Regions from separate parts of the Homo sapiens genome. Here region 1 is linked to region 2. Evidence: fine-mapped expression QTL. A gene starts in region 2. The other region holds a variant in brackets. All regions are shown on one strand. Distances are between the middles of the regions.

Region 1 (4,396 bases), 310 kb before region 2:
GCCACAGATAAACATTAAATAAGTGGCTATAATTAGTCTTTGTGTCCCCACCCAAATGTCATCCTGAATTGTAATCTTCTTAATCTCCATGTGACAATGGAGAGAGCAGGTGGAGGTAATTGAATCATGGGAGTGGTTTCCCCCAAGCTGTTCTCATGATAGTGAGTTCTCACGAGATCTAATGGTTTTATAAGGAGCTCTTCCCACCTTTGCTCAGCACTTCTCCTTCCTGCCACCTTGTGAAGAAGGTGCCTTGCTTCCTCTTCACCTTCTGCCATGATTGTAAGTGTCCTGAGGCCTCCCCAGCCATGCTGAACTGTGAGTCAATTAAACCTCTTTCCTTTATAAATTACCCAGTCTTGGGTATTTTTTATAGCAATGTAAAAACGGATTAATACAGTAAATTCGTACTGAGGTAGTAGAGCATTGCTATAAGATACCTGAGAATGTGGAAGCAACTTTTGAACTGGGTAATGGGCAGAAGTTGGAACAGTTTGAGTGCTCAGAAGACAGGAAGATGTGGGAAAGTTTGGAACTTCCTAGAGACTTTTTGAATGACTTTGACCTAACTGCTGATAATGATATGGGCAATAAAGTCCAGGTTAAGATAGTCTCAGATGGAGATGAGGAAGTTCATGGGAACTGGAGCAAAGGTGACTCTTGCTATCTTTTAGCAAAGACACTGGTGGCATTTTGCCCCTGCCTTAGAAATCTGAGAAACTTTGAACTTGAGAGACATGTTTATGATATTTGGCAGAAGAAATTTTTTAAGTATTATAGCAAAGCATTCAACATGTGACCTGGGTACTCTTAAAAGCATTCAGTTTTATGCATTCACAGAGAGATTGTTTAAAATTGGAACTTACGTCTAAAAGGGAAGCAGAACATAAAAGTGAAAAATTGGCAGCCTAATGGCTTGATGAAAAAGAAAAACCCATTTTCTGGGAAGAAATTCAAGCTGGCTACAGAAATTTGAATAATGGGAAGACAAATGTTAATCACCAAGATAACGGGGAAAACGTTTCCACAGGGCATGTCAGAGGTCTTCATGGCAGCCCCTCCCATCAGAGGCCCAGAGGCCTAGGAAGCAAAAACAGTTTCTCCAGCTATACCCAGCACCTTGTTGCTTTGTGCAGTCTCAGGACTTGGTGCCCTGTGTCCCAGCCTTGGCTAAAAGGGGCCAACATACAGCTCAGGACATTGTTTCAGAGGGTACAAGCCCCAAGTCTTGGCAGCTTACACATGGTTTTGGGACTGTGGGTGCACAGAGGTTAAGAATTGAGGTATAGGAGCCTCCACCTAGATTTCAGAGGATGTATGGAAATGCCTAGATATCCAGGCAGAAGTTGGCTGCAGGGTTGGAGCACTCATGGAGATCCTCTGCTAGGGCAGTGCAGAAGGGAAATGTGGGGTTGAAGCCCCCACACAGAGTCCCCACTAGGGCACTCCCTGCTGGAGCTGTGAGAAGAAGGCAACAGTCCTCCAGACCCCAGAAGGGTAGATCCACTGACAGCTTGCACTGTGCACCTGGAAAAGCTGCAGACACTAAATGCCAACTTGTGACAGCAGCTTCGAGCAAAGCCACGGGATGGAGCTGTGCAAAGCTGTGGGAGCCCACCTTTTGCATCAGTGTGACCTGGATGTGAGACATGAAGTCAAAGGAGATCATTTTGGAGCTTTAAGATTTGACTGCCCTGCTGGATTTTAGACTTGCATGAGGCCTGCAGCACCTTCATGTTGGCCGATTTGGAATTATTGTATTTACCCAATGCCTGTACCCCCATTGTATCTAGAAAGTAACTAACTTGATTTTGATTTTACAGGCTCATAGGAGGAAGGGACTTGTCTCAGAGGATACTTTAGACATGGAGTTTTTAGTTAATGCTGAAATGAATTAAGACTTTGGGGGACTGTTGGGAAGGCATGATTGGTTTTGAAATGTAAAAGGGACATGTTATTTGGGAGGTGCCAGGGGCGGAATTTTATGATTAGTCCCCACCCAAATCTCGTCTTAAGTTGTAATTCCCATAATCCCCACATTTCAAGGGAGAGACCAGGTGGAGGTAATTGAATCATGGGGGCAGTTTCCCCCATGTTGTTATTGTGATAGTGAGTGAGTTCTCATGAGATCTGATGGTTTTATAAGGGGATCTCACCACCTTCACTCAGCACTTCTTCCTGCTGCCTTGTGAAGAAAGTGCCTTATTTCCCCTTTGCCTTGTGCCATGATTGTAAGTTTCCTGAGGCCTCCCTCCCCAGCCACACTGAACTATGAGTCAATTAAACCTTTTTTTTTTTTTAACAAATTACCCAGTCTTGGGTATTTCCTTATAGCAGCATAAGAGCAGGCTAGACAGGCTATTATTAAGCTTTTTCATTGAATTTTATTTTTTCCTACTCTCCTCCCTCTTCTGTGGGATAATATTCTCAAACATAGTGTCAGCACTAATATTTCTTTTACTTTTGCCCCACACAGAAGCCTGCCCCAGATCTGTAACTCACAAAATATATAAATAGATAGGATATAAAGTTCAGAAGGTCCGCTGGGATTTGACTCATAGGGTGATCAGTTTTGGAATCAGAACCAATGACCAAATGCTCATTACAGATGAACAGC[G/A]CTCTATAGTTTACAGTTAAGCAATACGATGCAATGGTTAGAAACATAGGCTTTGTAGTCAACTTGAATTAAAAACCAAAATCTGGTACTTTTATAGATTCATACATGCAGATTGAGTGTTTGCTATGCATCAAGCACTGGGAAAGAAATTTTACACTAACTAGCTTTGTGAACTCATGCAAGTCAATAAATCCTCCTATCCTCAGTTTCTTCACCTGTAAAATGAGCATGACCGTCTTGCTGATAGCACTGTAGGCTTCATAAGAAACAGTATGTCAAGAGTTCTTAGAACAGTGCCTAGTGATGGTAGCTCTAATTACATGGCCTGAGAGATTTACTGTTGGAAATCTTGAGCAATATTTTTATTACCATTGCCCTCATTTTTGGGGTGAGGAAATTGAAGAGACTCACTTACGCTGCTCTACTGTTCTTGCGGGCAGCACTACTGTGTGTCAGCAGGTATTCATCAGTCCTTCATGAGGGAGTTGTAAGAATGAATAAACTGTGGAGGATATCCAGCAGCTGCAGAGGAGAATATTACCCAGCTTTCTCTAAGTCTTCCCACCGTGAGTCCCGGAGCACCAGACATGGCCACGTGAATTTGTTGGGCCTCTAGGAGCTGAATGAAAGCAGGAAATCTGTCAGCCTTGGCCTCAACCCTAAGAAAATTCTGCCACCCCTTGCTGCCAACTCAGATGCTTGTCATATTATTCATGAATGTGATGTCTTCCCCAAGAAGCTGTTGGCTCCCCAAGGCTGGAATGGGTAGGCAGGCACTGGAAACCCAGAAATCCAGACCAACAGTGGGAGAATCTGGCATGCAGTTGAGGGGCCTCCTAGGCCCATCAGTTTATGTCGATTCTGGGCAAACTAAGAATGGTCCCCTAAGGCTGGCATCCTAAGGACAAGTCTATCAATCACTCCATGGAAGCCAAGCATTATGCCAGACACTGCATGGGAAGTGCGAAGGGAGGTGTCTTAGACTGCTCAGGCTGCCATAACAAAAAACTGGGTGGCTAAAACAACAGAAATTTATTTTCTTAAGGTTTTGGAGGCTGGAAGTCTGAGATGCCAACATAGTCAGTTGATGATGAGGGCTTTTTTCCTTTCTTGCACCTTCCCACTGTGTTTTCATATGATTGTGAGAGAGAATGAGCAAGTTCTCTGGTGTCTCTTCTTATAAGAGCACTAAATTATTCCCCACTCTTATGACCTCATCTAAATCTAATTATCTCCCAAAGGCCTAATCTATAAATACTGTAACAGTGGGGGTTAGAGCTTCAACATATAAATTCTGTGGGGAACACAATTCATCAGTAGTAGGAGATAAACATTTTATTGCACTTGAAGTCTTGTCAATTTTGATCGATGTATTTAAGAGAATCAGTGACAAATTAGGAAATGCACCAAAGAGAAATCAGAATGGTACAGGATGTTAAAATCATGTTATTTAAGAAAAAAAATAGCCATAAAGCAACTATTGGGGGCCTAGACTAGTTTAACAGGAAAAAGTGTTATGAAAACGCAAATTGTTAGGGTGCTAACAGAAAGATATTAGAACCCTAATTACAAAATTATTAGGGCAATAGTTAAAATTTAAGATAGTATTTATAAACATTTAGTATGTTATCATAATTTTAGTGTACAAGGTTTATGTTGTTACTGTGTTAATTGCTCATTATATGGGTGATCATTACAAATGAATAGTGCATTCATTTAGTAATTATAATATTAAAATTCAACCCTACTGGTCCGTCCTTCTAGCAATAGTCAAATGAT
Region 2 (4,396 bases):
CCTAATAGAGTTACAAATGCCATAGTGCATAGAAACATCTCTTCCTAGATGGATTTCTTCCATTTAGGAAGCTCCATAGTGAAGTCAGATCAGAAATGGATGATAAATAGATGTGAGGGCATGGAGGTGAGGAGCCTAGGGCATCATCCTAGCATGAACAAAGTTTGGGTATTGTAGAGTACCTGGTGCATATGGACCCATCTACCAGAAACAGAGGCTGCGAACAGTACAGGGATGGAAAACACGTCCTCGTCTGGGCACTCCTTACTCAAATGCCAAAAAGCTTAAGATGCCACATAGCTTTTTGGAGAAAATGCCTTTTACAAGTAGCCTCTCCTAAAAATGCATAAATCATCTCTTCTCTATGTTATCAGAATACACTTATATGATAGTTGTTAACTTAACCCATAATAGTATTCTTGTTTGTCACCTCTGCTAGCCTTTTCCTGCTTTGAGGGCCAGCCTGGTCATATTTGGCTTAGTTTCCCTGTGATTGACCATACCACTTGTGGTAGACACTAATCAACGATTGTAGAATCCTAAAGAACTGGGGAGAGGAGTTCGAGTTTGAGACATTCCCCGAAAAAGCCATATCTATCTAGTTTTCTAGCATGCGCTCTTGTCTTATTTAAAAACTCACATAGAATTATAAATATATTGATTATATGTTCTATACAAATATAGTTTATATACCATATGACATATATTGTACACTATTCTAATATTTTAATCCCTAACCCAAGAGATTAACTCAGTAGGAACCACTCACTGCTGGTTGAGACACAGCTTCATGCTACTGAAATATCCTTTGGCTAAAGCACAGAATTTAAAACTTCCCAAACAACCAACATTTGAATCAGCCAAAATGGATCAAAAGTTCAAATGAGCGGTTTTATGACATGACTATTTATGGGCTTTCTTGCTGTCTGGGAGGGTCACTTTAGCAGAGAATCCTAAAATACTACAGCCAAAGCAACCGTAGGATGACCTAATCGTGTCTTGCTTTTTTTTTCAGATGGGGAAACTGAGGCCCACAGCAACAATAATAACTGTGGGGATGATATCATTTAATATTGAAAATAAGTGGATAATTGAGACCTCCATTATTAGTAGTTAATTTTTAAAAATCAAAGATCTCTCCTAATTAGCTTTATGGAGCAAATAAATATATTTTCCATATTCAAATATGGCTGTGATTTCTACACAAATGGTGTTAACAATCTAATACAGCATAAAACATTGTTTAAATATCATCATACCCTATTCCTAAACAGTAACGTGTAATAGATCTCTGGAGCCCAGTGTTGTAATATAAACACTTCCCAGGTGTATTCCCTTGGTAAAGTTTCATTACTTCTCTAAACGTCAGTTTTCTTGTGTAAAAAAGAGACACTTGTGTCTATCCTACTTACTGGTTACAAGGATATAATAAAAATAGTGAACAAAAATAGTGTTCATAAAGTACCCTGCACAGCACCTGATTATAGACTTAATAAGGGAGGGCTCAATGGTAGTTGCGTTTTGAATTACATTTAATGCTTCATTTTACTTCACTGTCACAAACTACTATGCTCTGCGGCAGGCTCAGAAGTCTCTAGGCACGGGTGAAGTGCTACTTCTCCACTCCCTTAAATGCCCCTGTATGCCCTGAGGATACTCAATGCATGCTAACCACCAAACGAACGGATGACTCAGAGCTTGGAGGAAATCCACGGCAGGCTGGAAAGCAAAGGCGCAGCTTATGGCTCAAGGATTAGGTTGTTACCTTTTTAAATTATTGCTTTTCTTTAAAGAAAGGGCTGTGGGGGACGCCTTTCAGCACTAAGAGAAAACCTCAGAAATCCTTCCCCCTGGAGACCCAGCTGAGAAGACCACACCAGGCACAGGGCATGAACAATGTCAAAAAGCTACTGCCCTGCAGGACACTGGGGCTGGAACAAAGATGCCTCCCAGCAGCTGGGCAAGGCTGGCTCCCACACAAGAAAAGCAGGGCTGATGTGAGCGTCCCGCACGATCCCCACCTGCTGAGACCTAATCCTGGGTTATCTCTCCGCTGGCCCAGAGAAACCTGAAACCCCCCAGGCTTTTGAAGGGCTTTATCTCCTCTTTCCAGGAACTGGGCTCAGTCCCTGTACTCGCTCCGAGGTGCCACTGAGCAGCTGCTGCCCAGAGCCCAGGCGAGCCCTGGTCCCATTTCCAGCTTGACCAAGTACAAGAGGGGAGCCAGGGCTGCGGATCCTACTCCCTCTTGCTCCCCAGGCATCCGTCTCACAATTAGAAAACCCGTGTGGGGAGCAAAGCAAAAATCACATTTCACTAACAGCTACTCGGGGTCGGGGGCGGGCAGGCGGGAATTCCTACTTTCGCCATAAATTGTATGCAAATGGGTTCCTTCCCTGGCCGAGAGCCAGGAGTGAGTGCGTCTTTCATGAGCTAACCCTGTTCCGCTGGGAGGGCTGTTCCTTTAATTCGCCAACTGAAAAAGTGGGAAAGGATGTCTGGAGGCGAGGCGTCCCATTACAGAGGAAGGAGCTCGCTATATAAGCCAGCCAAAGTTGGCTGCACCGGCCACAGCCTGCCTACTGTCACCCGCCTCTCCCGCGCGCAGATACACGCCCCCGCCTCCGTGGGCACAAAGGCAGCGCTGCTGGGGAACTCGGGGGAACGCGCACGTGGGAACCGCCGCAGCTCCACACTCCAGGTACTTCTTCCAAGGACCTAGGTCTCTCGCCCATCGGAAAGGTAAGTCTGTTTTGCCCTCATCACTAGAGATCCTTATGATGTAAGGATTGCATTCCTGGTACCAAATGAGTTGTGATTTTATATTATAATTACAAAACATATGGGGTTTTTTTTTCCACCGCTGGAAAAAAAAGGAGTGTGTATTGGTTATATCAGATGCACCTTGACTTTTCTGGTCTTGTAATTTTGTTTGTTTTAACTTTATGAATAGTCAGACTTGGAAGGAACTTTTCGTAAAGTTGTTATCTTCTGCTGTTCTGCAGAGGAAAAGTAAAAATTTTCTCTTCAACTGCTCTCCTACTTCTAGTCTGGCTGATTCACCTGTATATATCTTTTATTTTGAGGGTTAGGGCAGTAGAGTTTTAAGGCAGACTTTGCTCATAGCCTGCCCCTGGGATGGGTTAGAGGGAGTTTGATAGAGGAGTGCAGGGAGAATATAAAAGTTTATATCTAAACAGCACTTACATAAAGTTTACAAAGAGTTTTGTACCCATTCCCTCATTTGGTCCTCAAAATATTCACCCTGGAAATGAGAGCTGGGGGACAGAAGAGAGGAGGTGGCTCCTGGGCCAGATGAATAACTGACAGGCAGCTAGAGAGTGGTGGAGAACAGCTTTACTGGGGTGCCTAGAGCCAGCAGCGTCCCACATGTCTCTAGAATCACCTCCTCCTCCTCACCTCTCATCACAGAAAGATCTGAGCAACAACATCCCCCAGGTATGGGAACCCTGCTGCCCCTGGTGTACTTTGGAAAGAACACAGGGGTTCTTCTCACCCATCAGTGTTGTAAGAGGAATAAGAGCTTAGGTTTGAAGCCAGAGGTGTTTGGTATTCTCCCCACCACCATACATATGACCCTGAGAAAGATACATCACTTCCTTAATCCTCAGTTTTCACATCTCTAAAATGGGGACAATAGCGTCTGCTGTCGTTTTGAGGAGAAAATGAGGTATAGAAAGATCAGCAATGACTGCTTAATAACTGGAAGTTTGGATAATCATTGTCATTGCCAAAAACTGCCATCACTCTGGAAGTTAAAAGAGGCATTGAGCCAGTCTTGGATTGTTTCTTGTGTGTTGTTCCTCAGCCCGCCCCCAGCCCCCGCTTTTTATCTCACCCAATCTGAGGGTGTCTCACTAGGCTGGCAGGTCTGAGACTTGGCTGTATTTTACAAGCAGGAGGTTGTGTTGGCACAGGTTGGAGAAAAGGTAGTAGCCCGGGGCTGGAAGTTAATGTCAAATTTTGATTCCAGAATGTCAGGAGGTTTTGAGTTTAGGCATCTGCAGATTCTAAAGCTGACAGCTATGAAGTACGATGCTGTTGGAAACTCTTTGGAAAAGCTTTCTGTCCGGAGGGAGGGCAGGACAGGGAGCACCACTTGAAGAATGAATGCCTCTTTTTCATGTTTTTGTAGACTTTTTCCCCCATTTTTACAGAGCTTTCCCATATGTGTTTTAGAAAGGAAAACTACTATCCATCCCAGCCAGGCAAGCCCAATTCAGGACTGAAGAAGATTTATTCAGTCCTAGACAACCAAGTGAAGAGTTTCTGGCTTTGTGCGCATACAAGTCATTTGCAGGAGATGTAAGTCAGCGTGCTTTGGCCCTTGCATTTCAGGAAGGTGACTGCTTTGTGGGGAAGAAAAAGGTGCACA

Evidence for each region. PIP is the estimated chance that this variant, and not a neighbour inherited with it, causes the effect. A credible set is the group of variants that fine-mapping cannot tell apart.
Region 1: its variant is the best candidate, but not a certain one, in a credible set for the expression of TNC in fibroblasts (GTEx, PIP 0.65).

Annotation. Positions count from the first base shown.
Region 1 is chr9:115,422,025-115,426,420 of GRCh38, reverse strand. No RefSeq gene overlaps it. Among named protein-coding and RNA genes, the nearest start is that of DELEC1, 280 kb to the right of the region's middle. The variant G/A (reference allele first, on the strand shown) is at 2,618.
Region 2 is chr9:115,116,328-115,120,723 of GRCh38, reverse strand. It overlaps TNC (tenascin C), which reads left to right and starts at 2,567. Exons shown (of 28, transcript NM_002160.4): 1 at 2,567-2,742. All of the region lies in intron 2 of LOC124902255 (a long non-coding RNA gene), which reads right to left. It overlaps LOC101928748 (a long non-coding RNA gene), which reads left to right. Exons shown (of 6, transcript NR_110950.1): 6 at 1,016-1,185. RefSeq lists an enhancer at 1,469-2,288.